4 separate regions of the Homo sapiens genome follow, and regions 1, 2 and 4 are each linked to region 3. Evidence: fine-mapped expression QTL. A gene starts in region 3. Each other region holds a variant in brackets. All regions are shown on one strand. Distances are between the middles of the regions.

The links. PIP is the estimated chance that this variant, and not a neighbour inherited with it, causes the effect. A credible set is the group of variants that fine-mapping cannot tell apart.
Region 1: its variant is the best candidate, but not a certain one, in a credible set for the expression of MAGEF1 in whole blood (INTERVAL, PIP 0.52).
Region 2: its variant is the best candidate, but not a certain one, in a credible set for the expression of MAGEF1 in whole blood (TOPMed, PIP 0.87).
Region 4: its variant is the best candidate, but not a certain one, in a credible set for the expression of MAGEF1 in skeletal muscle (FUSION, PIP 0.59).

What each region holds. Positions count from the first base shown.
Region 1 is chr3:184,674,089-184,681,634 of GRCh38, forward strand. No RefSeq gene overlaps it. Among named protein-coding and RNA genes, the nearest start is that of MAGEF1, 34 kb to the right of the region's middle. RefSeq lists enhancers at 4,060-4,564, 4,565-5,070. The variant C/CTT (reference allele first, on the strand shown) is at 2,735.
Region 2 is chr3:184,633,793-184,641,338 of GRCh38, forward strand. No RefSeq gene overlaps it. Among named protein-coding and RNA genes, the nearest start is that of MAGEF1, 74 kb to the right of the region's middle. The variant G/A (reference allele first, on the strand shown) is at 4,108.
Region 3 is chr3:184,709,253-184,716,456 of GRCh38, forward strand. MAGEF1 (MAGE family member F1) reads right to left here and starts at 2,812. Exons shown (of 1, transcript NM_022149.5): 1 at 1,112-2,812. The coding sequence starts at 2,569. The coding sequence ends at 1,646. LOC107986163 (a long non-coding RNA gene) reads left to right here and starts at 2,991. Exons shown (of 5, transcript NR_160768.1): 1 at 2,991-3,166; 2 at 5,779-6,922. RefSeq lists an enhancer at 2,012-2,071.
Region 4 is chr3:184,494,546-184,502,091 of GRCh38, forward strand. All of the region lies in intron 2 of LINC01839 (long intergenic non-protein coding RNA 1839), which reads left to right. It also overlaps the pseudogene TEDDM3P. Among named protein-coding and RNA genes, the nearest start is that of LINC01839, 22 kb to the left of the region's middle. The variant T/TCC (reference allele first, on the strand shown) is at 2,891.

The sequences.
Region 1 (7,546 bases), 35 kb before region 3:
CCTTTTCCAACTTGGTTTTAGAGATGGCAAAACTGGGGAGTGCTCCTCCTCTCCTTGGGAGGACCCCCAGCTCAGACGGGAAGTGCTTTGTGAACGTAAAGCACCAACGCTGGGAAATTACTACAGATGGAGTTGTTGAGGATGGAGATTGGGGCACTGGAATTGTAACTCCTATCTGTCTCCCCAACTAGATTGTAAGCACCTTAATTGCAGAGACCAGGTCTCCTTTGTCGTGTGTGTGTGTGTGTGTGTGTGTGTGTGTGTGTGTGTGTCCTCCTGACTTAGCAATAAATGACTATGTGGATGGATGGATGGATGGATGGGTGGGTGGGTGGATGGATGGGTGGGTGGATGGATGGATGGATGGATGGGTGGATGGATGGATGGGTGGATGGATGGATGGGTGGATGGATGGATGGGTGGATGGATGGATGGGTGGATGGGGCCTTCCACAGGTGAATTTCCCTTCCTTACTTATCACTAGATTTTGCCATGGGTCACCTAGGCTGTCATCACCACGGTCACTGCTGTGAATAATGGAGTGTCAGGAGCTGAGGGAGGCAGTAGGGTATTGAGAGAACCTGTTAGCCTTGGGACTCAGGGGAGGGCCATTAATAAGGAGTAAGCATCTGAAGCTGGTCCTGACAGGCTTGCTGTGAATGGTGAGGCCAGATTACATGCCCATTGTACCCTGCTGTGAATCCACATCTCCCTAAGCCCCATCACACAGTGTAGCCGGGAATTTCTCACCCTCAAAGGTCTTTCAACCAAAAAAAAAAAAGGCCATTTCTGCCCAAGGAAGAATGTGGACCTGCAGGTTCCAGGTGGGAAGGAGAGGGGCTCAGGGTCTGGGTGAGGACAGAAGTTGGTGCTCTGACCTTAGTATGAATAACTCCAGCAAAGTCTTAATTCCTCAAAATACTGCCCAACATGCAACCGGCCACCTTTTATTGAACTTCCACGTGGGCAGACACTATGCTTGCTGAGGATACAGAGGTAAAAGAGAAAGACCCTGCCCTCAGAGGACTTATGGTCAAGGAGTAGAAGCTGTCGGGGAAAGGGCAGAGGGCTGGTGAGCCACGGAGGAGAAAGTGCTGGACAGGGCATGGACCCCAGGGGTGGCTTCATAGAGAGGCAAGATTTAAGCTCGGTGGGAGTTCTTCAGTGTGGCTCCCGGGAATCTGAATTTCTATCTCTCTCTTTTTTTTTTTTTTTTTTAGATAGAGTTTTGCTCTGTCGCCCAGGCTGGAGTGCAGTGGTGCAATCTCAGCTCACTGCAACTTCCGCCTCCTGGGTTCAAGCAATTCTTCTGCCTCAGTCTCCTGAGTAGCTGGGATTACAGGCGCGCGACAGCATGCCCAGCTAATTTTTGTATTTTCAGTAGAGGCGGGGTTTCTTTTATTTATTTATTTATTTTTTGAGACAGAGTCTCACTCTGTCACCCAGGCTGGAGTGCAGTGGTACAATCTCAGCTCACTGCAACCTCTGACCCCTGGGTTCAAGCGATTCTCCTGTCTCAGCCTCCCAAGTAGCTGGGATTACAGGCATGCACCATCATGCCCAGCTAATTTTTGTATTTTCAGTAGAGACGGGGTTTCCCCATGTTGGCCAGGCTGGTCTTGAACTCCTGACCTCAGGTAATCCACTCACCTCAGCCTCCCAAAATACTGGGATTACAGGCGTGAGCCACCGTGCCTGGCCAAATCTGAATTTCTTCTCAAATGCATGGGGGAATCTGTTGTGCCGACATGGTTAGGAATGATTTGTCTAGTGAGTGGTGGAGAAGGCATCCTAGGCAGAAGAAACTGTATGTGCAAAGAAAGGGAGGTGATCTAAGGGCACAGAGGTAACGGCAAACAGTCAAATATATGTGTAGAAACCAGGTTATTTGGGGGAAAGGGGATGCAACTAGAGTGGGAGGAAGAAAATCAAAATGCCATTTTGTTTGAATCGTTGAAAATAATTCCCCCAGGAAGCAGTAATCCATTTCAGCCTTCCTCATTCAGTGCTGATTTGCCCAAGTGGCAGGGAGATCTGGTGCCGATTACCAGGTTTCGGTGCATTAGGTAATGCAACAATAAAATCTGGGTCACTGCAGCACAAAGTCCCCTTTATTTTGACAAGTGTAGTTTTTACTCTGAAGTGTTATCATAAATAATTAAATTAAACCAGTAAATGGGTTGTAGTATGCTTTGCTGCAGTAACAAAGTCTCTGTAACCCCAGACACTGAGCCACTCCTTTGGGGGATTCTTGGCTCGGAAACATTTGGGAATTTTTCAGAAGTCAAGAATATTTGGAGTAGTCAAAGGAGAGAGGTAGGGCTGAAGGCTTGTTCCAGCCCATCCTGCTGCCCCGTTTCCCACTGGGCTTCCCCATCCTGCTGCACGCCATTCTATCATTTGACCTGTGGCAGCTTGAATCTGTAAAGGGATCACTCCTCAGCCCTAGGCTGGCCTCGAATGAAGAAGGGTAGAGAGTCCCAGTGCACATATTGGGCAGCCTCTTTTTTTTTTTTTTTTTTTGAGACAGAGTTTCGCTCTTGTTGCCCGGGCTGAAGTGCAGTGGTGCAATCTCAGCTCACTGCAACCTCCACCTCCCGGGTTCAAGCGATTCTCCTGCCTCAGCCTCCTGAGTAGCTGGGATTACAGGCATGTGCCACCATGCCCAGCTAATTTTGCATTTTTAGTAGACACGGGTTTTCTCCATGTTGGTCAGGCTGGTATTGGGCAGCCT[C/CTT]TTTTTTTTTTTTTCCATAATGCCCGCTCAGGCATCAGGGCATCAATAAGTAAATACTTCAAATCTTAGGGTAGAAGGTCTTGCAGGGACTCTCAAGACCACCAGACAACCCACCACCATCCATGACTTTTACCATTTCATAGACATGAAAACCAGGGAAGTAAAGTGACATGACCCATTGCTTGTTGGCCGATGGACAGGATAAGTAACATGCAGAACGTGAGTGCCAAAGACGCGGAGACCCAAAGGAGAATGTGCTGGAGACACAGGGGCTGCATGCAGGCAGAGAAAGGGGAAGTTGCAGGAGGAAGGAAAGAGGAAACGGTAAGAGGCAGGGGTGAGGTCTGCTAGAGGGCTGGGAGCTTTGAACCAAGTCTTCAGGCGGAGACCCTGAGGAGTCATCACCGGAGCCCTCAAGTACTCAGACATCTGCCCGCTGCATCAGGACAGTTCTCAAACCAAGCAAGAGAGAAATAAAATCTCTGTAGTGAAGAAGGAAAAATGGTGCTGGAGAGAATACCCAGAGGCGGAACCTGCTGGCTTTAAAGCAGGAGATTTCGGTCCCTCCCCAGGGTGAGTGGGGCTGCTTTTTGCCTCCTTCTCTACCATCTGCCCCCTCCGCTCTCCCATCGTCCTGCCTGCTGGACATCCAGGCATCAGCTTCTGTCACCCTTGTCAGGGCCTGCAGATAAGGTGGCAGTTGGTGGCCAGATTAGAGGGGGAGTAGCATTCCACTGCCCCCTCTTTTGGTGGCATCCAGGCCTGTAGGACTCCATGCAGGGACAACTCCATTCGTAGAGCCAGAACTCCCAGTGAGAGTTCTAGAATGGGGGCTCCTTCCGAGTCCCAGAGCCTCCAGCTGAGCCAGCTCCAGGGAGAGCGTGACAAACAGGTATCCTGGACAGAGAGGACTCTGGAGACCAGAAGAGCCTGTCAGAATGAGGGGCCGAACAGCACACACGGCCTTCCCTCCTGCCCCTCCACAGACCGGCTGTTTTTCATAGCACCTTTAGTGGAAAGGAAAGCATGTTTCTCTCACTCCATGGAACTCTGAGCTATGTAAACAATAGAGATAGAGCTGGAACAAAAATCACCTACAGGGCCGATAGCTGCACCAGAAATCCCTCCAGGGAGGAGGCCAAGGCTCCTTGGTGTTCAACAGCACAAAAGCTCAGATATTAGTGAAGTGTCGGTGCCCGGGGCTTTTGCCCCAGGGCTGTGGGGTCTTGTTTAGAGGTCAGTGAAGGGGAAGGCCCACACCTGGTGGGCTGCACGGCACCCCCTCCTTCTCCCTGACATCTATTGCATCATTCTCAAGGTGTGTGGACCAGGGACAGGGGAAGTGAGCTCAGCTGACCCAGAAACCCCGGCAAGGCCTGTGCCCAGTTTGCTGTTCCTCACCGGAGACCTTTGGGGTTCTAGGCCACTCTTACGTGGTGATGGCAGGGCAGGTGTGCACAGGTCTGCCTATGAGGTGGGGATCTGCAACTGTCCCCAGAAACCCACTGCTAAACTGGGTCCTTAGGGACTTCACCGCCCTGCTGGCCTCCTCCTCCCTCTGAGGCATCATTGACTCCAGGAAGCCCTCTGTGAACCCCAAGGCTGCACCCTGGGGTGCCAAGCTTCTCTGTGTGCCTGCACTGCACCCTGTCATACTCAGAGCTTATCATCTCAAGCGTATCTCCTTAAGACAGGGCTGTGTTTGACTTATCTCTGTGCACACTTCCATATACAGTAGGTGCTCAATAAACGCTTGTTGGACAGAACGGGGCATCTCTAGGCCAGGCCTGGCATCCCTGGTCAGGACGGCTTCAGTGGGAGGCCCAGTTCTCTGGCCTCAGCTGCCCTTGGCTCAGGGGGTCCAGTTCGGGAGAGACCAGGGTGGTCAGAGCGTGCACTGCCCTTTAATCCAGGCCTGGGTTCTTTCCCGCGTCACGGCCAGATCCCATCTCCTCTTCAACACATAGCGCTGTGGCTACCACATTGCCTCTCTGGCAGACACTGTGGGGATGTGTGTAGTCAGGTTGCAGGGAGGGGGACTTTAAACAAACAGTCCATGGCCCCAGTCAGTGCCAAGGCTCACCGCATCCCCAGCCCCACACCCCCTCTCCAGGGCGAGCCAGCTTGCTGGACCGTGTGACCGGGAGCCCGCAGAATTCATTTCACAAAAAATGTTTTGGTGCTCTGCTTCTCACCCCATCCCCAGCTGGGCCAGAGAGCACCTGAGTGCCCCTCCTGCTCTCCCTCCCTCTTGGGCCTTTCGCCCCCTAATCCACAAAGTGGGGAGCGGTCATGTGGGCCCTCAGCTCTCGACAGGAAGCTGTCAGGCACAGCTGGCTCGCCGGGCCAGCTCCCTTACCGCCAGGGAGGCGGGCTGCCGTCCCCGAGCCCGGCTCGCTGAAACCCAACCCCTCTTTCCAGCTGCAGCTCGAAAGAGCCCCTGGCCAGCCTTCCCCAGGGACCCTGCAGCCTGCAGATCTCACGGTCAGGGAATTTTCCCTGCGCAGTGTTCCAAGTCAGCCAAGCCTCCAGAACAAAGGGCAGAGAGACAGAGACCGGCCTCTTCCTATCCCCCCATAAGTGGCAAGAAAGACCCAGCCCACAGAGGCTGCTCCCCTGATGTGGGGGAAGGGTATACCCAGAGGACAAAGACCATCCTTCCTGGGAGGCCTGTGCCTCGGGAAGCACTCCCCGGAGGAGCCAGGACCAGATAGATTTGCAGCAGCCCCCATTTCTTCCACCCCAGGGAGGAAAGTGACCTGTACTGGCCCTGACATCCCAAGGGCCACGGGTGTCAGGAGGCCTGTGTCAGAGTCAGGTGCTGCACAGAAGGGGATTGTTGCTGATTAGTGCGGAGGCACACATTCCAGAACGCAGTGATTCCTTTCCCTGGGGAAAATGCAATTTACAAAAGAAAAATGGGCCGGGCGCAGTGGCTCACACCTGTAATCCCAGCACTCTGGAAGGCGGATCACAAGGTCAGGAGATCGAGACCATCCTGGCTAACACAGTGAAACCCCATCTCTACTAAAAAATACAAAAAATTAGCCGGGCGTGGTGGCGGGCCCCTGTAGTCCCAGCTACTCGGGAGGCTGAGGCAGGAGAATGACGTGAATCCGGGAGACAGAGCTTGCAGTGAGCCGAGATGATCGCGCCACTGCACTCCAGCCTGGGCGACAGAGCGAGACTCCGTCTCAAAAAAAAAAAAAAAAAAAAAAAAAAATGGGACTTTTTTGTTGTGGTCCCTAAGAACAGACTGTTCCTCAAACTCAGATAATAAACTGCTGTCAAGCAGCAGCCCTGGTAACATGTAATAGAGTGGAGAGAAACCCGCAACCAGCATTGGTTCAAGCTCTGATATCATCACTAACTAGCTATGTGGCTGGTCTAGCTCTAGGGACACCCCAAAGCCATTGTGGCCAGGACAGAATATATTATAACTAACTTCTCTGAGCCTCATTTTTTCTCATCTGTAAGATGGGACTAGTATTGTTTACCAGGCCTACTTCCTTCATTTAGCAAACATTAAGTACCAACTGTGTGCCAGGCACTAAGTCTGTTGCTGGAAGCTGAGAAATAACAGGATTCCCCACCCCAGGTCACATTAACTAATGGGTATAAAGGTGCTTGGAAAACTGAAATGCTGAAATAAATAGATAAGGACCAGCTGTAATGATCTCATTAACTTTCTGGGAATGAGGCTGCTAAAGTGATTTTTAAAGTTCTTAAAAACAGTTAAGTAAGCCAGACCTGTCTCTGTAATCTGGCCTGCACTATTTATTTGCTTAGCAAACCATTTCTTCATAGATAGTGCAAAAGGAAAGACTTCAGACCAGCCCGAGGCAGAATTTATCCCAAATTCAGAGTGAGTGGGGTCTGAATTAATTAGGTCTTTCTGTAGCTTAATGTATAAACCTGGGCTCAGGAAATTTGGCCTTTAAAGCAGGTGCCCTTTCAAATGAGTGGGTTTCATGTGACTGTTTTAACTTCAGCTTCATTACCCTTTATGGGCTGCAGGAGTGGTGGGGGGAGCAGGCAGGAGGGATCTGGTGTGAGTCTGCTTCCGTGAATGGGGAGCCAAAGGAACCGTAAAACAGCCCCTGGGTCCTCAACAGCCTTCTCCCAACCAGGGCCTGCCAAGGTGACCTGCCTACCTCCCCATGGAGGTAAATTCATACTTACAGTCCCCGTCTGGGGTCTCCTCCAGTCTCAGGTGAGGGCAAGGGCCAAGGCTCCCAGTCCTACTTGTGGGGCTGGTCATCTGCTGGGGTTTCCTCCTTCGATCTCTCATTGTCCTTGAACTTCTTGTTCTAGCTCCTTGGCAGCCTCCAAACTCCACAGCGTGAGAGCGCTGTGCCAGGATACTCTCTCACTCAAGAACCCGCGGTTATTCCCTACTGCCTGAAAGTCCTCAGCCCCCACCACCTGCTCTTATTATCTGCTCAAGATGCTCCAGGTCACCCGTCCCTTTAGACAGTCCAATATGGCAGCCACCAACCACCCATGACTATGGAGCACTTGTGGCCAATCCCAATTGAGATGTGCTGTAAGATATACACCCAGATAATGAAGATTCAGCATGAAAAAAGTAATGTAGGCTGGGCGCGGTGGCTCACACCTGTAATCACAGCACTTTGGGAGGCCAAGGTGGGTGGATCACCTGAGGTCAGGAGTTTGAGGCCAGCCTGGCCAACATGGTGAAACCCCATCTCTACTAAAAATACAAAAATTAGCTGGGCATGATGGCAGGCGCCTGTGATCCCAGCTACTCGGGAGACTGAGGCAGGAGAATCACTTGAACACCTGGGAGGC
Region 2 (7,546 bases), 75 kb before region 3:
TTGAGACAGAGTCTTGCTCTGTCGCCCAGGCTGGAGTGCAGCGGCGCCATCTCGGCTCACTGCAAGCTCCGCCTCCTGGGTTCAAGCAATTCTCTGGTCTCAGCCTCCTGAGTAGCTGGGATTACAGGCTCCCGCCACCACCCCTGGCTAATTTTTGTATTTTTAGTAGAGACGGGTTTTCACCATGTTGGCCAGACTGGTCTCAAACTCCTGACCTCAGGTGATCCGCCCGCCTCGGCCTCCCAAAGTGCTGGGATTACAGGTGTGAGCCACCTCGCCCGGCCCCAAGCTCAGCCTCTGTTTGGCCTCAGGAACCACCAACTCCTAGACCTCTCTCTGCCACCCGGGCCACTTGTAGGCCTCCATATCTTATGTCCAGCTGCCCTGAGTGGAAAGGAGGGAGTTCCACCCCAGGAAGTCCCGTGGACATCTCAACCCCAAGGTGCTTGGTCTTTTTCTCCAAACCTCTCCTTCTCCCTGGTGTCCCGAAGTCGGAAGCTTCAGACAACCCCCACTTCTTCCTTGCCCCACCCTTTCTGGTCTGCCTCAGAAGGTGCTCTGAAGGTGTCCTCTTGTCCCCACTCCCATGAACCCAGCCCCAGCAGGCCCCTCTTCGGCTCTTGCCAGGACTATTGCAGGAGCTGCTAGCTGCTCTTCCCACCCTCAGTCTCCCTTCCTGCCCATCCCTTCTCCAGACAGCTGCCAGTAACTTATTAAAAAGCCAAAATAAATAAAAGCGTATAGTGTCACTCTCCTTCTCAAAACGCTCCCCTGGCAGCTGCAGATAGAGTCTAGAGCCCTGGGGTGCCGCACCAGGGCCCCCGTTCTGTCCCATGTCCCTCCCACCACTCTCTCTGAGCCCTTCCCTTCCTCTCTGCTGGCTCTTTAGCCTGAAATAGCTTTTCCCTCTCCTTCACCTTGAGTGGATTTGGAATCCAATTTAGATATCATCTTCACTTCTGAAAACTTCTGCCTCCCCACACATACCTCCATGAGAATCGTTTTTAATCTTTTTACTCTCAAGGGTGTGTACAAACTTTAATTCCAGCCCTGAAACCACTACCCTTCAGCTCAGGGTCCCTTAATGAGTCCATCCTCGACGCCTGTGCCAGGCAGGGTCCTGTCATGCGTATGTCCTCTCTGGCCATCTCCATTTGACACAGTCCTGTCCAGCTTGAATCTAACCTCCCTGATGTTGACTCGTGTCTCCCTTCCTTTGGGATTTTCAGTCTGTGGCCACACTGGGCCCTGACTCTTTTGCCCTGTGCTGTCCACATTGTTTTCTACGTGCGGGTGTGGGGCCACCCCAGCTGGCCTGGGAGCTCCTGAGGGTGTCAGGGTGGAGTTCCTGCAGCCATGCCCCTGTGGAGCTCTGAGTGGTACTGGGCTCACAGCCAGGACTCAGCGACTTTGGGGACTGGGGCTGCAGGGCATTGAATTTAAGTCGGGAAGAGGGAGGAGGAGGGGACGGGAAGAAAGGAGCCCTTAGCAGGCGCTGAGTGAAGGCAGGTTGTAGGCCCCTGGGACTCCACTCTCAGGGCAGGACTGGGGGCCACAAGGCCTGCTCTCGCCTGGCAGCTGTGAGGAAACCTGCTCCCAGAGGTGATGCCAGAGGTGCGGGCCACCGGGGCAAGTGGTCTGGCGGCTGGCCAGGATCTGACTCTGACACTGGCCTGCTGAGTGCCCAGAAGAAAGAGGCTCAGAGGGAGAGCCAGAGCATGAGAGACATGGCAGGGACGCTGAGTGAGAGGGACAGAGAGAGACACGGCAACAGGGACAGAGACAGAGAAGAGGAGAGGGGGGCACAGAGACACATACGCTGAAAGAGAGACAGACAGATTCAGAGACAGACTGAGAGACAGAGTGACTTAGAGACACGCACAAAGAAACAGACTGATGGAAAGAAAGACAGGGTCCGAGAGAGACACACAGACCAGAAGACAAAAAGGAAGGCAGACAGAGAGGACAGAAAGGAGTGAGGCAGCGTGGGGAGAGAGAGGCAGGGACAGAAACACAGACACAGACAGACATGAGGGCACAGGGCAGCCCGAGAGAAGCCCATAAACACAGGCACGCACATGCGTGGAGGAGGCACGAAGCCACCTAAAGGTGGAGGGAGGGTGTCGGGGAGGAGAAGGCACAGGCCTGACGCTCAGGGCCTGGGGTTGGGTGGCGGGAGGCTGGGCCTGTCGGCTCCTCTCCTTGACGTGAGTCAGGGGTGGTGGGCAGGCTGATGGGGCAGGCCTGAAGTAGGGCTGCGTGGAAGGGCTCTGCGGGGTCAGGGGAAAGCCTGGGTCCAGCTGTGAACCCTCCAGGATCCAGGGCTGCCCCAACAGGAGCCCCAGGAGAGGGAGCTGGAACCAGAGAACAGCACGTGGCAAGAGGCCCCAGTTAAGCTTTGCAGCAGGATGGCCCAGTGGCTACTGGGTTCAGAACAGCTTCTTGGGAGCTGGGTGTCGTGGCACATGCCTGTAGTCCCAGCTGCTCAGGAGGCTGATCGCTTGAGCCCGGGAATTCACGACTAGCTTGGATAACATAGTGAGACCCTGTTCCTTAAAACAAAAAACAAACAAACAAAAAAACACAAAAAAAAACAGCTTCCTGGACATGGAACCTCTCACCTCAGCAAGGAGAGGAGCTGTGGAGGGAGCACAGGGCTGAGACCCTCAGAGTTCCTCCATGGGAACAGCGCACCTGCATCTGTGTCTAAGCCTCAGAGAGACTCCCCAGGCCCTTGGCAGTCCATTCCATTGTTCCACCGTCCAATACAGAGAGCCCACTGGAAGTCCTCCCTGCTGTCTCATTCTGATACCTCTTATTGCAAGTGCAGCCCACTCAACTCTTTAGGAGGTTAAAAAAAAAAAAGCAACAAAAACCCCTCCACCGAAATCTGAAATGCCACACAGTGCTCAGACAAAGACCCCTTTCTGCACAGCTTTACTCCCTCCTACACCTCTCTCCCCCTCCCCACCCCGCTTCCTTACTGCAGGCTAAATTGGCAGTGGGGAGGTTTTGAGTCAACAAATGCAGTGGGTTGGGGAAGGGAGCCCTGAAGGGGATTCCTGTCTGGGAAACATTTGCTGACAGCAGTTACTATGACAAGGAAGGCCTGCAGGAGAACCCAGCAGCCCCTGCCTCCTGCCTACTGCCCCTCCCAATTCTAGCTCTCCTTGCCCATCCCCCCTCCCAACCAGTTCATTCACTGACTCATCCATTCCATCATTTACTCAACTCAACAATCTTTAGACATTTACCATGCCTCCAGCACCCGCTTGGCATTTCATGTTTATTCTTCCACTCTGTCCTCACCACAACCCACAAAGTTATCTGTTGTTTTCCCTTTTGACAAAGTAGAAAGCTGAAACCCAGTATACTGAATTGACTTGCCCAGAGTGGTGCAGATGACAGGAGGCAGAGCTGGGATTTGCACCCAGGACTCTCTGCTTTCCAGATCAGTGTGGGGGTTTCTGAACTGCGTCAGGAAAGCAGGTGCCAGGTGATGAGTACTGTACAGGCTGAGACTTCGCCATCTTTGGCTCTGCATCACTAAAACTGTGCCCAGCACCCACACACAGTAGGCACTCAGTACACACTTGTGCCATACATTCAGCACACATGAACTCAGTATACACATGTGCTTTTTGATGGGAGGGCAAGAGTCAGCAAAAGTGGGACTCCTGAGAAGAGAGGGCCTTCCTGTTTGGAAGCAGCTGTACCTCGGTTCTGCAATCCAGGCACTCAAGGGCATTGATAAAGTGCCTACTGTGTGCCGGGCACTGTGTTAGGACCTCTGAATACAAAGATTTAAAACACAGATTTGTAGTTTGCCCTAAAGGAGGTCTTTGTTTAGTGGAGGAGGCAGACATATAAACAGATGGAGTTAGCAGTGCTACAGAAATAAGTACCAAGTGCCGTGGGGTTGCAGGTGGAGCAAGGACCTAAATCTGAAAAGCAAAACAAGAAAGCCTTTATAAGACAATGTAAAAAAAATCTCCGTGACCTCAGGGTAGGGAAAGATTTCTTAAACAACACACAAAAATAACACTAACCATAAAGAAAAAGATTGACAAATGTGGGTGCATTAAAATGAAGAAGCTGTGTTCTTCA[G/A]AAGACAACATGAAGAGAGTAAAAGGGAAGCCACAGAGCAGGAAAAGGTTTTGCAACACATGCAACTGACAAAGGGCTCAGCTCCAGAATGTGTAAAGAACTCCCACAAATGAGTATGAAGATTGGCAACTCAATGGAAAAACTGGATCAAATGCATAAATATGGAAAAATCCAAATGGCTATAAATATATGAGGTGTGTGACCTTATCAGGAATCAAAGAAATGCAAATTAAAATCCCAAGAAGATTCTACTACATACCCTCCAGATTAGCAAAAATGTAAAAGTCTGATAAAACGAAGGGCTGGTGAAGATCTGGACCAGGAGTTCTCAAATATCTCTTCAGAAGCAGCCGGTCAGCATCTAAGCAGTCAATTCAGACATGTGTACTCCAGAGGTGAATCGTGTACAAGAATGTTCGTGGCAGGCATTATTCATGAAGGCCCCAGACTGGAACCAGTGAATATCCAACAGCTGTAGATTGGATAAACTGAGTACAGAGAAACAGAATGAAGAGCACAGTTAATTCTGCCTGAGGGGCTGGGGTGTCTGGGAAGGTGGATCTTGGAGGAAGAATAGTTTCCCAGTCAAGGAAGCGGGAGAGAGGTTATCCCATCCAGAGGGTTCAGCAGATGGATGATCATGGGGTTAAGAGCAGTTCTAGCTTGTCCAGGAGGCAGCTGGATTAGGGGCTGGCAGGGAGAGAGGCAGGGAAGGTGAGCAGAGAGAGGTTGGATGTGTTGGAATGTGAAGGCCTCTGTGGGCCATCGAAGGAAATTTGGCTTAAATACAAAAGTGAGAGATAGTCAGAAGCAAGGAGCAACTAGAGGTTATTGCAAAAGATGATGCAGCAGGAAAGAAACATAGCAGTGTGGCGGAAGAGAGAGGGTGCATTTGGGAACCATGTCTGAGACAGAATACATAGGATGTTGTGTGGGGTGTTGGGAGGGGTCAGGACGGAGCTGAGGCAACTCCCAGGTCTCTGGCTGGCCGGCTGGGTGGAAGGTGATGCTCTAACTCAACATCCAGAGACTGCGGAGGTGGAGGTTTGAGGCAAGAGCTAAGAGGACTAGTTGGGGACATGCTGCTTTGGTGGTGCCTAGGGATACACAGGTGAACATCCAAGTTCACCAGGATGTGGAGCTTGGACATGAGCCACAGATATCAGAATTACTAGAGCAAGAAGCCATGGGTTTAGATGAGAATATCAGGGGTGCAGGAGCAGGGCAAGACAAGAATTGGAGCTCTAGGAACCACAACATAGAGGCAGTGGACAGAGGAGAAGCAGGGGAGAGAGAGGGAAGGGATGATGGAAAATAAGAGAAGGTCCAGAAGAGAGGGTGGTGCTGCAGCAGCTAAGGGAGGAGCAAGTTGCACCAGGGCTGGGTGGTCTGTGAGTGAAAACTAGGTCTTGGGAAGAGGTGGGGTTGGGTCTGTGGTTAGCAAAGAAGAGGAGGAGAGGGTAGTTGAGGGAGTTCTGAGAATCTCTATTTTCTCTGTCAATTACACATGACGGAGGGGACAGGCCGGAAGCCTGAAAGGGTGGTAAGTTTCAGAACAGGAGCTGATCACCAGCAGCCCAGGAGCTGAAGGGCCAGGCTGAAGTCAGGGACCATAAATCTGGAGTGGCACTAGTTTGCACGGTTGAGTGGTTTTCCTATGCCTTCTAGTAGCCTGGGAATTGCAATGGACAAAGCAGATGACTGGAGTCCTCCAGGGCTGGGAAAGGCAGGGTGAGGGGGTGTGGGAATCAAGGGTGTCGGGAAAATGAATGATGTGGCCAATCACAGGCAGGTCAAGAGAGGAGAAAGTAGAGCCAGGAAGGAGCAGATGCGCTGGCGGAAGGCCTTGTCCAAAGCCGGCACTGCAGCACCGGTGCTCGAACGAGTGAGACAGAACGGGAGAATTGGAGAATCTCTGCGAGTGGAGACCAGGTTTTATGGAAAGGAAGGAAAAAGTTGTGGCCCAAGATGGGGGTGCTGGAGTTTAAGATTTCACAGGAGACGTTTCAGGTGATATGTGGGTGGCAGAAATGGAGAGAAGGTCGTTGGGGAAGGGGAGATAGGAGAGCCAAGGGTGAGGGTGTTGGGAAGTCCATGTGGACATTCAGGTCCCCCAGACTGACAGCAGGAGGTGGGAGACAGAAGAAGACCCTGAGCCAGGCGCCCAAGTCCTCAAAAGACGTTGAGTGACCTCTGGGTGGATGGGTGATCCCAGCCAGGTTGGGTGAGGGGTGTGTGGCTGGATGGTGGGAACCTGGAGGTCTGGTTTTGAGTGGGAGAGGAAGAGTCATGGACTGGGTGGCAGAGAGAGGTGGAAGAATGCTGACTGTCCGGCCTGGCCAGGTGCCACCTCCAGCAAGCTCGTCTGATCACTCTCTTCTTGACCTTCATTGTTCTTTGAGTCTGAAAGACTCCATTTAACCCTTGAGTATCCACAGCCCCAATATTTGCTTCTCTCCTCCAGAGATCACTGGGCAGAATTCCCATGGGTGGATTGTGGCTTCTGTGTATTGTGGCCCCAGTGTATTCTGAGAAATGGGCCATGGACACAGGACAAAGAGGCCTTGACCGCAGCTTGGGTTAGTGAAAGTGTGGGCTGCTCTGGGCCAAGCCACACCATCTACTTTGGGCCCAGCAGGCTGGGCTCCTCCACCCCTACCCCATCTCCCTGGGACATGTGGAGCTTTTCTACCCTTCATTTTGCACATGGAAAATTAAGCCAATAAAAGCCTCAAGAATATTAAGGCATGGGCTGAGGCCTGATGGCATCTGGAACCCCGTCTGCAATACCTGATTCCCTTCACCTGCTATCAAAATCTTGCTCAGCCTTCAAGGCCCAATCAAGGGAGCCTCACCTTCTTTCTGATCTTCCCTTCTCCACGTCAATTACTTTGCTGGCTAGATTCTTGGTCCTTCCATTTGGCATTTGTTTTCACCCATCTTAAAGTTGGTTGCTAAGAGTCTGTGTTTTCTATAAGACTTCTTTTTTTTTTTTTTTTTTTTTTTTTTTTGAGACTGAGTCTTGCTCTGTCACCCAGGCTGGAGTGCAGTGGCATGATCTCGGCTCACTGCAACCTCCGCCACCCAGGTTCAAGCGATTCTCCTGCCTCAGCCTCTCGACTAGCTGGGACTACAGGCGTGGGCCACCACATCCAGCTAATTTTTGTATTTTTAGTAGAGACAGGGCTTCACCATATTAGCCAGGATGGTCTCAATCTCTTGACCTCATGATCCGCCCGCCTCGGCCTCCCAAAGTGCTGGGATTACAGGTGTGAGCCACCGTGCCCAGCCAAGACTTCATTTTTTTAATGAAGGGGAGTTGGGGGTTGGAGATACTAACCATCATCCTCTATGTGATGGTATCTACAAGACTTCATTCTTGAAGTCAGTGCCTCTGAAGGGGCCATGGGTACAAATAAGACATGGTCCTTTGGGAAGG
Region 3 (7,204 bases):
GTTACTTGGACACAACTGGAAGAAAAAATTGATAAGAGAAAAGAAAGCAGCTCTTCTGTTTATGGCAGTTGCAGGGGAAGTTTCACCATCCGCCCACCCTGCCCCCGACCCTCACCCACTCTCTGGTTTGGGAATCACTTCTCTAAATTCCCTATTATTCTAAGTACCCTTTCTACAGGATTTACCCTCACGCAGAAGGTGGTGGGCATTGAAGAAGCCAGAGCTCCTTACAGATGACTCTCCACGGATAACATGAAGGGGAGGGATACCTCACAAGTCTCCTGTAAATGGGAGGTGGCAGGTGGAAAGCAGCAGGCAGAAACATGGAAGGGGGAACTGGGCTTCCTGGTGCCAGAGGAGAAATCTTGAAGTGGAACTTCTTGGTAGTAGTAGATTTAGGTACCCTTCATCCACACTACATAATATTCCAGAGGTGTTACATTATTTGATCTCTGAGGGCTTTGGTAGAGGAGGGAACCCTGTAGAGGTTGAAAAGGAGACAGAAAGGGCCAAAAAGTTGACAGTCAACATCTTTGTGCACTGTTAACAATCTGGTCTGGAAAGACAGCACTGGCAAAGGTAGAGTATTTCCCAGATCTGCCATGTATCAAGTCTGCTCACATTACTGAGGAGTAGCTGTGATCTGAAATCATTATTTTTATTTCTTATTTTTTTCTGAGACGGGGTCTTGCTCTGTCTCCCAAGCTGGAGTGCAGTGGTATGATCTCGGCTCACTGCAACCTCCGTCTCCTAGATTCAAGAGATTCTTGTGCCTTGGCCTCCCAAGTAGCTGGGATTACAGGTGTGTGCCACCACGCCTGGTTAATTTTTGTAATTTTAGTAGAAACAGGGTTTCACCATGTTGGCCAGGCTGGTCTTGAACTCCTGACTCCGGTGATCAGTCCGCCTCGGCCTCCCAAAGTGCTGGGATTACAGCAAACCTCACTCAATCATCCCAGCTGGGTTAAGTATCCCTTTGTAGACTTCAACTCATTGCACTGCTAATTTCTTGTTTATTTACTTACTCTTCAATTCTGAAAAAAAGTAGGACCTTTATCTTGTTTAGTATTCTATCCCCAAGTGCCCACACAGTGCATCACAGAAAACAAGATGCTCCACAAATGTTTAATTTATTAAGTGTGCCAGGGTATACTGCTAACTCATTGCATTTTAATTTTTCTCTAGATACTCAAATAGCTAAGCAAATGAAGGTACATGCCAGTCTTTCTTCTTTTATACACAACAGACAAAAGTGTTGGGGGGCTAGACACCAACCAGCTATTTTTTTCCCCTGGAACCAGATCATCATACTGCTGAGTTCCTTCAAACCATCAAAGTACAGCCTTCCTTCCAATGTTGCATAATCTGTTCAAAATCACAGTATAAATACAAAGTTCTTCCATCCATTTTACAAAACCAGCAAAACTCTACAATAAAATCCTACAGGAAAAAGTAGACCAATCTCATTTACAAACAGCATTTTAACAGTAATTATTAAATGTTACAAAACATAAGATACAAAATCTAAATCCTTAAAGTCACACGATTTCTACAGAAATAAGACCCTCGCCCCACCCATATTACTTATGACTCAGGACAGTAGTTCGTCCTCACGGGGACCCACTGGCCAACTTTTCACCAACCCTCACCAGAGGTGGATGCCGGCCCTAGCACTGGCCCTGGCCCTCATACTGGCTTCAGCTCTGGCCTTGGCTCTGGCCCTGTCGGCCTCGTCTGCTAGGGCCTCACGGTACTGCACTGGCCAGTGCTGCGGTTCCTTCTTATGCAGTTTGGCCACGAACCCCAGGACTTCCATCTTGCTGATTTCCAGGTTGCTTCGGGGACCCCAAGAGAATTCATATTCTGGTGGATTGGTGTGAGGCACCCGCCTGTAACTGAGATATCGCTGCTGCACAAAATCTTCCATAATAAGCCTCTTCGGATACCCAAAGAGGAAATGATACTTTGAGGGTTGCACCCCCAACCGACGCAGCATCTCCCAGACCTGGGCCTCCCTGGCGCTATTACCTCTCATATAGATAAGGCCCAGGATCATCATTAACAGACCCAATCTGGGGCCATCTCCTCCCAGATCCTCCTCCTCCTCCTCCTCCAGAGGTTTTAGTTTGTTGATCAGGATGTAAGTGTGGTGCTTGCGGTCAAACTGTTTCAGCTCAAAACCAAAGACATACCGCAGATGCTCTGCGGCCCTTGCGATGATGTCCGGGAACAGAATCTTCAAGTCTCCAATAACGTATTTCACCATCTCCGAGCGTGTGATGGGACTCTTCTTCTTGTCTTTCACCAGGAGGAACTGCACCAACTCCGCCACCGTCCGATTCAGCCGGCGGTAGGCCCTGCGCCTTGCCAAGGCTTTGGCCGCCAAGGCCCTCGCGCCTTTCCGGGTGAGGGCGGGCTCCGCAGCCCCCTCCTCCCTCCCGGCGCCAAGCTCCTCCTTGGGGCGCTCCTGCGAGGCGGTCGGGGCCCGGGTCTCACCATCATGGCCGCCATCCTTCTCCCCCTCGGCCTGCGGGACCGGGAGCCCCCTGCTCTCTGGTGTCTGCAACATGTTTTCGGGCAGGCAGGTGCAGAGCGCGTACACGGGCCGAGGGGTGTGGGAGCCGCCGCGCAAGCCCCGGGGGAGGGGTTGGACAGCGGCAGTGACGGCGGGAGTACAAGGAGCAATGGCAGCGGGAGCTTTGTGGCTGCTGGGCCGCACCGCACGGGAGTCAAACCTGCGGCCGCAACGCCGCCAGCAGCCGGAACCTGCGGCGCGCAGCCTCAGTCCGCGCCCGCGCGAGGGGCCACTTCCGGCCACCTCAGCCAGGACGGCGACCCTAGTGCCGCGCGCAGCCCCTCCTTTTCCGGTCCCTTCTGGGTTGGGGGTGTGCCCAGGCTGCTATAAGTGGAAATGCCCTGGAGGGTGGGGACGGGGGTGCGCCCTGTGACGGATTTTAGGCTTGAAAAGTCGGGGGCGGGGGAATGTAACCAGGACTCTCCCATCCAAGGCATGCAGACTGGGGAATGTTTCGGTGTACAAGAGATGAAATAGGGATGGAGTGCCCCCCACGTTCTTTCTGCAAGTGCCTATTTGTGAGTGTGTGTATCTGGGATTTTCAGTGCTTTACCGGGGCTCTTGTGCAGAGTGCACGGTGAAGGCTGCGAGGTAAGACTGTGCGAACCAATTAGTAAAGGATGCTAGGGAGACTGAAATTTATTCTGGACGTAAAGAGAAAATACTGCAGCGGGATTTAAGCAAGTGAGTGTCCAGACCAGATCTGTGTCTTCGGTTCTGGCGGTATTGTGGAAGATAGATTGGAGTTCGGCCGGCTAAAAGCTAGAATCCAGTTTGGAGGATTATTATAGTGCAAACTAGGAACTGGGACCCGGCCTATTTACTGGGTTGTATCCTCGGTGCCTAGAGCAGTGCCTGACACGGAGAGGAACTCAATAAATATTCAATGGATCATTATGATGAGGGAGTAAGGACAGCAGATTCCATGGGGATAAGAGGAAAATACTGAGAAGTACAGCAGGAATAGGGACTGGTTGGAAGAAAGGGGAAGTTTGTTCTTTTTTTTTTTTTTTTTTGCGCAAGTCAAATTTGACTACTCCCATGTATTTCTTTTCTTTTTCTCTTTTTACACACTCTGAGCTTTCTTCTGCTTCTTGCTCCTTCCTTCCTTCTTTCCTTCCCTCCTTCCTTCCTTCCTCCCTCCCTTCCCTCCTTCCCTTCCTGCCTTCCTTCCTTCCTTCTTTCCTTCCTTCCTTCCTTCCTTCTTTCCTTCCTTCCTTCCTTCCTTCTTCCCTCCCTCCCTCCCTTCCTTCCCTGTCAGAAATGCCCTCTCTATCACCTCCATTTCTCCAAATCCTGTCCACTATTCAGGGCCCAGTTTAAACATCACCTTCCCAAGCCTTCCTTAGTCACCACGCATAGAAGTTATTTACTGTCATCTCTGAATCACCTTAGCAATTGTTAACATCCACATATATAGGCTTTATTAGGTGCCAGGCTCCGTTCTAATCACTTTTCAAATATTAATTCATCAGATTCTCACTAATGTAGGTACTAATACCATCATCCCCATTTTATAGATGATTGTATCTTTTCTGTGACACAGTTTGCTACTTACTAGCTATGTAATCTTGGGCAAGTTACCTAAACTTCTGCCCTTCTGTTACCTTATCAGTAAAATGAGTATAATAGTAGTAACAGCATTGTGGAGATTATGTGAAGTAATGCACATAAGCATTTAACACAGTGCTTGGCACATATTGATATTCAATACATGTTAGCTGTTAATTAATGCATATTTTTATATGCAATATACAATATTAGAATTGCAAGATGAACTGTCCTGGAATGCCTAGCACTCTGTGGAGATGCGGAGGAGGTGTCCTGGGACATAGCACTGAACCGGGTCAGTACTCACCCATTCTGTGACCTTGTACAGGATGCTCAAACACCCTGGGCCACTTTTTTCTGATACTGTAGCCCTGCTAGGTAAGTGGTATTAGCCCCATTTTCCAGGTGAGGTTACACACAAGGAGGTTAAGTAACTTGCCCAACATCACACAGCTGGGATGTGAACCCATATAGTATGACTCCAGAGACTGTGCTCTTAACCACTACATTCATAGATGTTAATTATTATTATTATCATTTACTATATTTTGTATTATAATTTGTTGTGCTTATCTTATTACCCTCCCCAAACCAAACATCCTAAAAGCTAGGGCTATGTTTTTAACTCTTTTGAAGAGCTTCTCTTAGTCAATACTCGATATATAATTGCCAATGAATAAATGACAGAAGGCTTTACTTTTTTCCCTAGGAAATAACAGTTACTTATTTTAAGTAAATATCTGATAGACTTTTCTAAATCTAAATATGAAATCTTCCTTTTAAAAACTTTTGAAAATTTATACCCACTTGTATCATATGACTTACAAACCTGGAAGTATGTGAATGAAGCAGGAGAGGATGTTTATTATAGCCTAGCTTGAGGCTATTATTAGTTTTCATTGTGCCAAACATTCTATGTACAATATAATTTTGTCCTCACAAATCCCTATTAAGAAGGTATTATTATCCACATTTACAAATGGGAAAACAGTCACAGAGAGGTTAAATCACCTGCCCTGAACCACCCATCTGTTAAGTGCTAGACAAGAAATGAAAACCCAGATCTGTAAACTCTGAAGCAAGACTGCCTGGTTATCTGTTTTTCCTGAAGGTAGAGAGAGCCACCCATACCTAAAAGGACAGTGCTAGAGATAAAATAGTCCACTTACATATTTTCCTCACTACAAGGATTGCCAGGGAGATATGCAGGAGATACATGCACGGAAAGGAGCATGCAGAAGATATATTAAATGAAAAGAATTTTGAGGGACAAATCTGTGGTAATAGGGCTGGATTTTAAGAACTGAATAAATGACGATACTACTCATAAGAAGGAACAAACTACTGACACAATGTGAATGAGTCTGGCAGATATGTTGAGTGACAGATGAAAGATACAAAAGATTATACGTATAATATGATTCCATTTATCTGATGTTCGAGGCAGGATAAGCTAATCTATGGTGATAGAAATTAGGACAGTGGAGGCCTGGGGTGGTGTTGACTGGAAAGGGGTATCCAGGAACTTTCAGTGGTGATGGCAACGTTCTGTGTCTTGATTTGGATGTAGGTATACATTTGTCAAAACTTGTGAAACTGTACGCTTAATAGCTATGCATTTCTTTTCTTTTCTTTTCTTTTCTTTGCGACAGGGTCTCACTCTGTTACCCAGGCTGGAGTGGTGCAATGGCACAATCTCAGCTCACTGCAACCCCTGCCACTGCAACCCTTGCCTCCAGGTTCAAGTGCTTCTCTTGCCTCAGCCTTCCAAGTAGCTGGGATTACAGGCACCTGCCACCACACCTGGCTGATTTTTGTATTTTTAACAGAGACGGGGTTTCACCATGTTGGCCAAGCTGGTCTCAAACTCCTGACCTCAAGTGATCTGCCTGCCTCAGCCTCCCAAAATGCTGGGATTACAGGTGTAAGCCACCATGCCCAGCCAGGTATGCATTTCATAGTGTATGAATCATACCTCAAAATTTATAAAAATAAAAAAGGATTTTAAAAAATGAACAGCCCTTTAGGTATGGGAGGAGGCGAGGAGTAAGAAAGGTGAATGGACTCTGCATTACCACTTGCCGATCGCTAGATGTTACCATGTTACAGTGGAAGGAATGCAAACAATAATTTTTCCCATTTTTTTTTTTGTTATGTCCACCATGTAACCGGACACACAGAATTTTTTTTTTTTTTTTTTTTTTTTTTTGAGACGAAGTCTCACTCTGTCGCCCAGGCTGGAGTGCAGTGGCGCATCTCGGCTCACTGCAAGCTCCGTCTCCCACGTTCACGCCATTCTCCTGCCTCAGCCTCCCGAGTAGCTGGGACTACAGGCGTCTGCCACCATGCAGCTAATTTTTTGTATTTTTTTTTTTAGTAGAGATGGGGTTTCACCGTGTTAGCCAGGATGGTCACGATCTCCTGACCTCGTGATCCGCCTGCCTCGGCCTCCCAAAGTGCTGGGATTACCGGCATGAGCCACCATTTCCGGCAACAGGCAGACTTTTAACACATTCCTTACCTAAACTTTTAAAAGGGACAAAAGATATATGCCTTTGGTTTGGGAGATGACGAAACATATGCTTTAATGACTATTGGGTTGGAATCTTCTTGAGAGAGGATCCTTCTTAGCCTAGACTAGAGTCTTCAAAAGCCCACAGTGCTTCGTAAAGTTTCATACGTGGAAGAGAGAAGGATGTTCCACTGGAAAAGCAGAATTGCAGCTGAGCTGTCCTGAAATGCCCAGCACTCTGTGGAGACGCGGAGGAGGTTTCCTGGGACAAAGTGCTGAACCAGGTCAGTACTCGCCCATTCTGTGACCTTGCACAGGGTGCTGAACCTCTCTGAGCCACCTTTTCCTCATCTTTAGGCCCCAACAACCCTTGCTTTGCCCATCCTTACAGAGTTATTTTGAAGTTCAATCAAGATTATACATGTAAATATGCGTTTAAAGTGCTCCACCATTAAGAAATAAATATAAAATGTTACAGACCCTTTTCTAAAAGAGATATGGTGGAAAAATCCCAGTAATGAGGGTGACTGGCCTCTTAGACAGACATTTCGGAATAGCTTACACAT
Region 4 (7,546 bases), 210 kb before region 3:
TCAGGGACCCTAGCATCTGGGTCACTTCATTATTCTCAGGGCCTAGCATGGAGTCTGGCATATAATAGATGCTTAATAAATATTGAATACCTACTTAGATGAATAAAGGGAAGAATTGAATTGCTGGAAATAAATGAAGATCAACCAAATGAGAACAAGCAAAGACGATTGATTCAGAGCTTGCTATAGCAAGGGAGTTGGCCACCATCACTTGTGTTTTGACAGAGAATCCAAAGCAGGTAGAGGAGTGGGAAAGCTTTATAGTGGAAAAAAGGGAAAGGCTTCATGTATGCCCTGGTTGAGGCTGTTGGCCTCTAAATATTATTTTTTAATCTTTAAAAATAAGTGTCACTGGCCGGGCGTGGTGGCTCACGCCTGTAATTACAGCATGCTGGGAGGCTGAGGCTGGCAGATCACCTGAGGTCAAGACGTCGGGACCAGTCTGGCCAATATGGAGAAACCCCATTTCTACTAAAAATATAAAATTAGCCAGGCATGGTGGTGCATGCCTGTAATCCCAGCTACTCAGGAGGCTGAGGCAGAAGAATCGCTTGAACCCAGGAGGCAGAGGTTACGGTGAGCCAAGATCGCACCATTGCACTCCAGCCTGGGCAACATGAGTGAAACTCCATCTCAAAAATAAATAAATAAGTAAGTAAGTGTCACTTACCTGCACACCCAGCACTCTCTCTCGCACTAGGGAGAATATGTAAGGGAAGAGGTCCATATAGTATTATACAGTCAGAACTGCAGTTAGAACTTATAGTGATTAAATTCCCTTTTTTTTTTTTTTTTTTTGAGACAGAGTCTCGCTCTGTTGCCCAGGCTGGAGTGCAGCAATCTCGGCTTACTGCAACCTCCGCCTCCAGGGTTCTGCCTCAGCCTCCCGAGTAGCTGGGATTACAGGCACCTGCCACCACACTGGGCCTTTTTTTTTTTTTTTTTTTTGTATTTTTAGTAGAGATGGGATTTTACCTTCTTGGCCAGGCTGATCTTGAACTCCTGACCTCTTGATCTACAAGCCTCTGCCTCCCATAGTGCTGGAATTACAAGCATGAGCCACCATGCCTGGCCTTAAGTTCCTTTAAAGTGAAGTTATTGGCCGGGCACGGTGGTTCACACATGTAATCCCAGCACTTTGGGAGGCTGACGTGGGTGGATCACCTGAGGTCAGGAGTTTGAGACCAGCCTGGCCAACATGGTGAAACCCCATCTCTACTAAAAATACAAAAATTAGCCAGGTGTGGTGGTGGGTGCCTATAATTCCAGCTACTCAGGAGGCTGAGGCAGGAGAATCGCTTGAACGCGGGAAGCAGAGGTTGTGGTGAGCCCAGATCTTGCCACTGCACTCCAGCCTGGGTGATGGAGTGAGACTCCATCTCAAAAATAAATAAATAAGTAAAAATGAATTATTATTATTATTATGGAAGGGCTCCAAAAATCACGACAAATACAATTGATGGAAATCATGCCGGAGTGGTCATACTCCAATATGCAGGATATGAAGGATAATTTTATGTGTCAACTTGTCTAGGCTCTGGCACCCAATTGTTTGGTGAAACATCAGTCTAGATGTTGCCATAAAGGTATTTTTGGGTTATAATTAATGTTTAAATCAGTAGACTTTGAGTAAGCCTATTACCCTCTATAATGTGCATGGGTCTCATGCAGTCAGTTGAAGGCCTTAGAGAAAAGATAAGGTCTCCTAAGGAAGAAGGGATTCTGCCTCCAGACTGCCTTCAGACTCAAGACTGCAACATCACCCTTCACTGTTCTCCCATCCGCTGGCCTGCCCTGCAGATTTTGGACTTGCCAGCCCCAACAATCGCATGAGATGGTTCCTTAAGATCCCTATTAACTACCAGCAATTGCATGAGCCTGCCCCTTAAAATCCCTGTTGTCTATCTACTCATCCATTCATCTATCTACACATCCTGTTGGTTTTGTTTCTCTGAAAAACCCTAATACACTGGGCAAGGGCCAGATGTGCAGACAAAAATTCTCCCCACAACAGCACAAGTGAGTGTATGCAGGACTAACCTCTTTACCTCACTCCCACCTTTCCCTCTAGTCTTCTGCAACTCTAATTCCTCTTTATCAATTCAGACCTAGGATCATATAACACTTATTCACATTTTTTGTCAGAGGGATTATACTATAGCCGTTGATTTTCAGCCAGTGTTTGAGGTCATTAACGTTATAAGTATCTTGTTTTCAAGTTGAAGAAGGAAGGATTCTCTAACAAAGAATGTTCCATGAACAGGTGAAGGGATGTGTTTATCATAAAGCATCCTGAAGTATATCTGTGGTAAGCCTCCAGGGTGAGGGCAGAGCCAGGCTTTGTGAGGCCGAATGCTTACACAATTTAAAGGACCCTCTTTAGGAAAAAAGAATACACAAAAATAGTACATTTGCAAATTCTCAGTGATATGCGGATCATGCGAACACCTTGCTAAAGCCTCTCCCAGGGCCTTGGACAGGATGAGTAAGGTGAAGGGCCTTGAAGCTTAAACTTAATTAGTTCCGGTATATCTGGCTCTGCTTCAGGGCTTTTTGGGGTGGGGAGAGAAAGACAGGTGCTGGCCTCTCCCTGGGTTGGTTCTTCCTCCTCTGGGGAGGAAAGTTGGGGCTGGCCTGGTTCCAGCTGCTTGAGAGACACATTTGTTTTCCTCTAAGATCCAGAGTCTTCCCTCCCATCCAAGCCCTGCCAGTGTGAGTGGCCAGATTTTTGGCTCCTTCTTTATCCCTTTCCCTTCTCCCCTTCTCTAATATCAACCCCTTGTCCCAGAGTCTCCACGGCCTGTTTTCTGTGCTCTTGTGTACTGCTTCTTTAGAGTGCACCCAATTGTCTTGTCCCTTCTTTTCTTTTCTTTCTTCCTCCCTCCCTCCC[T/TCC]CCCCCCCTTCTTTCCTTCCTCTCTCTCTCTCTCTCATTTATTTATTTATTTATTTATTTATTTATTTATTTATTTATTTTTGAGTCAGGGTCTCACTCTTTCACCCAGGCTGGAGTGTACTGGCATGATTACGACTCACTGCAGCCTCTACCTCCCAAGCTCAAGTGATCCTCCCACCTCAGCCTCCTGAGTAGCTGGGACCACAGGTCTGTGCCACCACACCTGGCTATTTTTTTTTTTGTATGTTTTTAGAGACAGGGTTTTGCCATATTGTCCAGGCTGGTCTCAAACTCCTGACCTCAAGAGATCTGCCCACCTCTGCCTCCCAAAGTGCTGGGATTATAGGTGTGAGCCACTGCGCCTGGTCTACACCGATTCTTTAGAGTGCATCCAATGATATTTTCAAATAACAGTGTGCAGTCTGTCTTGTCTGCCATCCTGCAAACCTCTCTGTGCTTCTTGAAGCTTCTCATGGTCTGAGGAGAGCATTCCAGGCTGCACACGGGGTGTTGTAATTGCAGCAGCTTCATCATGGGGACTTTTCTCTATGGTTCTTTCTCCACATCTATGGCCAGCATCTCTTTTCTTTTTGCCTCTTCAGATTTCTAAATGCTGGGTGTGTCCATCTCACTTAAGCTGACTCATACTATTAGAAGCAATGGCTTCCTAACTGTACCCAGAGATATGTAATTTTATATAATTTGCTTTCATATATTTCACCAAATATGTGAATTTATTAGCATCCCATTCTGAGAGAAGACCAAAGATCTGAAAATATTCCTGCACATTCCAGGGGACTGACACCCTCAGATTCTCTCTCAGCTCTGAGTTCCTGTGTCTTCAGAAGCACTGAGATCACTTGCACCCCATTTCATGGCAATTCTTTCCCCCTCCTCCGTGTTCTTTTCCTGTCAATTGAGATATGGGCTCTTTCTCTGGCTTCCCTCAGAATCACTCACATGAGACGTGTACACATGTAATAGACTTTACTGAATGAGTTGGAACAATGGAGTTGTTTTGTATCACAGAAAAACACAAACAATTTAAAATCATATTTAAATCACCTTCATTTCTGACAAGCAGCTTTGGAATTCCTCCGTGGCCTCCTTTCTCCCTCTTCTTGATCCCCTGCTAAATTGATTGGAACCACACCCCCCTGCAACTGCCCAAGCTTCTCATTCCTTCCTCTCTCATAAGGCAGAAGTGGCCTCATTTAGTTTAGGTTTAAAACACAAAAAATGGCCGGGTGCGGTGGCTCATGCCTGTAATCCCAGCACTTTGGCAGGCTGAGGTGGGAGGATCGCCTGAGGTCAGGAGTTTGAGACCAGCCTGGCCAACGTGTTGAAACCCCGTCTCTACTAAAAATGCAAAAATTAGCTGGGCATGGTGGTGGGTGCCTGTAGTCCCAGCTACTCAGGAGGCTGAGGCAGGAGAATTGCTTGAACCTAGGAGACGGAGGTTGCAGTGAGCCGAGACCAAGTCACTGCACTCCAGCCTGGGTGACAGAGTGAGACTCCATCTCGAAAACAAACAAAAAACAAACATGAAAATTCCTCATACTGCCATACTGAGAGTGAATAAAAAACAGAGAAATTGAGAAAACAGAAGACTTCACCATTATGGAAAAACGGACCCCCTGTCTTTCACACATTGAGAGACTTCATTTGCAGGCATACCCGTGCATACCGTAGTCCTGCCCCATCTAAGAAATATGGTGTCTACGGGCGCTCTTTCCTCTCTGTCTACTTCCTCAATTCATTTCCTCCTCTTGGATCCTGAAAACTGCCAGAAAAAAGCAGCACTCCTGTTCTCATTTCATGTATGTGCTTGGCCAGAATAATGAGAGAGAAAAGAGACAGACCTGGAGAGAAGAGAATGATGGATGAGAAGTTACCCCAGGGGCTGGCAGGTTTATTTGGGAACGAGAAAGATGGCTCCCGAGATAGAAGCTAGCCTGTGAATTCTAAGGCATTTCCATGCTATGCGTGCTGTGGGCACCCTTGAAACTCTCATTACAAAAGGCATAGAACAAAGACAGTTTCTGTACCTAGACGCCTCCATCCAGCAGCACAGCCTCTGCCCTGAGCTTCTCAAGCTCTTCACCACTGGAATTGGTGAGGCACGGCTAGTACCTGGCCCCTGGTAACGCTGTCCAGGAGGAGCAGTGACGGTGCCAGAGGCTGCAGAGGCCATAGACAGCAGCCAGCACGGCAGCCCCCAAGCCCAGGTGCCAGGAGAAGAAGCGAGTGAGGAAGGCAAGGTCCATGGGGTTCTCCACCTGCAGGGCTGTCCGGAGGGAGGCGCAAACATCAGCACACACAGCTGCAGCATCCAGTTGCTGAGCCCCAGCCCCACCCAGGTCTTGAGCACCCAGAGCTGGGGCTGGTCAGGGACCCAGACCTTGATGGTGAGCACCAGGGAGACCAGGAAGGGGGGCACGCTGAAGAGCTCACGCACACGGATCTCCAGGGTGCCCTTGTTCTCAATGTGGGCTGCCATCAGTAGTGCCAGCACATAGGAGCCCAAGGCCTTGACTGCTTGCTCTAGCTTCATATTCTACCATTCCTGACACGACTGGCTTACAATGTCCACCACGCCAGTGAGCATAAAGAACTCGTACATGGTGATGTGCTGCCAGCTGTCCTTGAACACGAATGGCCACCGCGGATCCTCCCAGTCTACCACCATCAGCCGATTTACTCCAGACGGGTAGAATAACTTGGGTAAGATGCCAGCCAGGGTGATGACCACCTTCACCACACCTTCTAGTGGCACCAGCTACCACCACCTGTGTCCTCACTTCTCCCTGGAGGGCAGAGGGAGTTTGAGGAGCCTCTGTTCCTGTAGCAGGGCCAGAGACACCAGCACCATATAGTAGAGTGAGTAGAGAAGGAAGAACATTGCTGGCAGCAGGTGTCCCTCGAGGGTGCCCATGGCTTTAGTGTGTGTGTTGGGGCCAACGGGGCGAGAGCTGGTAGATGAGCAGCAACCTCACACACACATGACCGGCATCCTCACAGGCAGGAGTGGCTGCCTCTGAACCACGGAGAGATCATGCTGACGAGCCCCACCCCTGCCTCCCACACACAGAAAGGAATAGGTCTTGTTGCAGAAACCTGAGCCACACCCCAGGGTGGGACGCCTTTAAGAGGGTCCTCCAGGGTGGGACCGCTGCAGCCACCTTGCTCTGCTCCTTACTTAAATCGGCTAGGCCCAGCATTTCAATCTGTGCACCTCACTGCAGATGTCAGTTTCACAGATGCTGATTCAGCGTTTCTTTCACCAGCCCCTCTGCCACAGCGCCCTACCCCTGCAGAGAGGAAACAAAGAGAGTGAAGGAGCTCCAGCAAAGAGGAGTAGGGCTGACTCTCAGGCTGACTTTTCTCTCAGTGCTTGGCACAGTACATACTTTTCTCTCATTTAACAACTCTATGAGGGAGGTGTTATTAGGTGAAATTTTACAAGTGAAATGAAGGTCCAGAGCGGTGCAGAGACATGCACAAAGTGGTCCATCTGCCAGCTGGCACAGCAGAGCCAGGACGTGGACCCGGGTCTGCTCATCCAACAAAGCCTGAAGTTTATGCACAGCAAAACTACTGACATTCACTTCCAACCCCGTAATCATGACTGTGGGGAATTTACTTGGTCTTCTTGAGTCTCAGCTTCCTGATGTGTAGAATGGGAATAATAATTACTTCATAGATTTGTTATGAGAATTAAATGGGATTATATATAAAGTGTCTGATACATAGTGAATAATGATGGTGATTATGAATAATTTAGCTTTTTTTTTTTTTTTTTGAGATGGAGTCTGGCTCTGTCACCCAGGCTGGAGTGCAGTGGCACGATCTTGGCTCACTGCAAGCTCCGCTTCTTGGGTTCACACCATTCTCCTGCCTCAGCCTCCTGAGTAGCTGGGACTACAGACGCCCGCCACCGTGCCCAGCTAATTTTTGTATTTTTAGTAGAGACGGGGTTTCACCGTGTTAGCCAGGATGGTCTCGACCTCCTGACCTCTTGATCCCCCCACCTCGGCCTCCCAAAGTGTTGGGATTACAGGCGTGAGCCACTGCGCCCGGCCCTCCTATTGTTATTACTAGCAGTCCTTGCTAAATTTCTATGATCCTGAAGTTTTTAAAGTATTTCTTTGAATGATACCAAAGCAAGAGTCATAAAGAAAAACAGTAACATATTTAATTATATTAAAAATTGTAAGTTATTTATTAATAAAAATTAAACATGTACTGATTAAAATTACAGTTTAAAATTTTCAAAAGAAAAACAAAATAAAATTGTGCCCCATATGTAAGAAAGTGTTAGTCTCCTTACAACATAGAAAGCACTTACAAAGAAAAAAGTTAAAAATATGGCCAGGTGCCGTGGCTCACACCTGTAACACCAGCACTTTGGGAGGCCAAGGAGGGCAGACCGCTAGGTCAGGTATTCGAGACTAGCATGGCCAACATGGTCAAATCTTGTCTCTACTAAAAATACAAAAATTAGCCAGGCATGGTGGTGCGTGCCTATTATCTCAGCTACTTGGGAGGCTGAGGCAGGAGAATTGCTTGAACCCAGGAGGCAGAAGTTGCAGTGAGCTGAGATCATGCCACTGCACTACAGCCTAGGTGACAGAGCAAGACTCCATTTAAAAAATA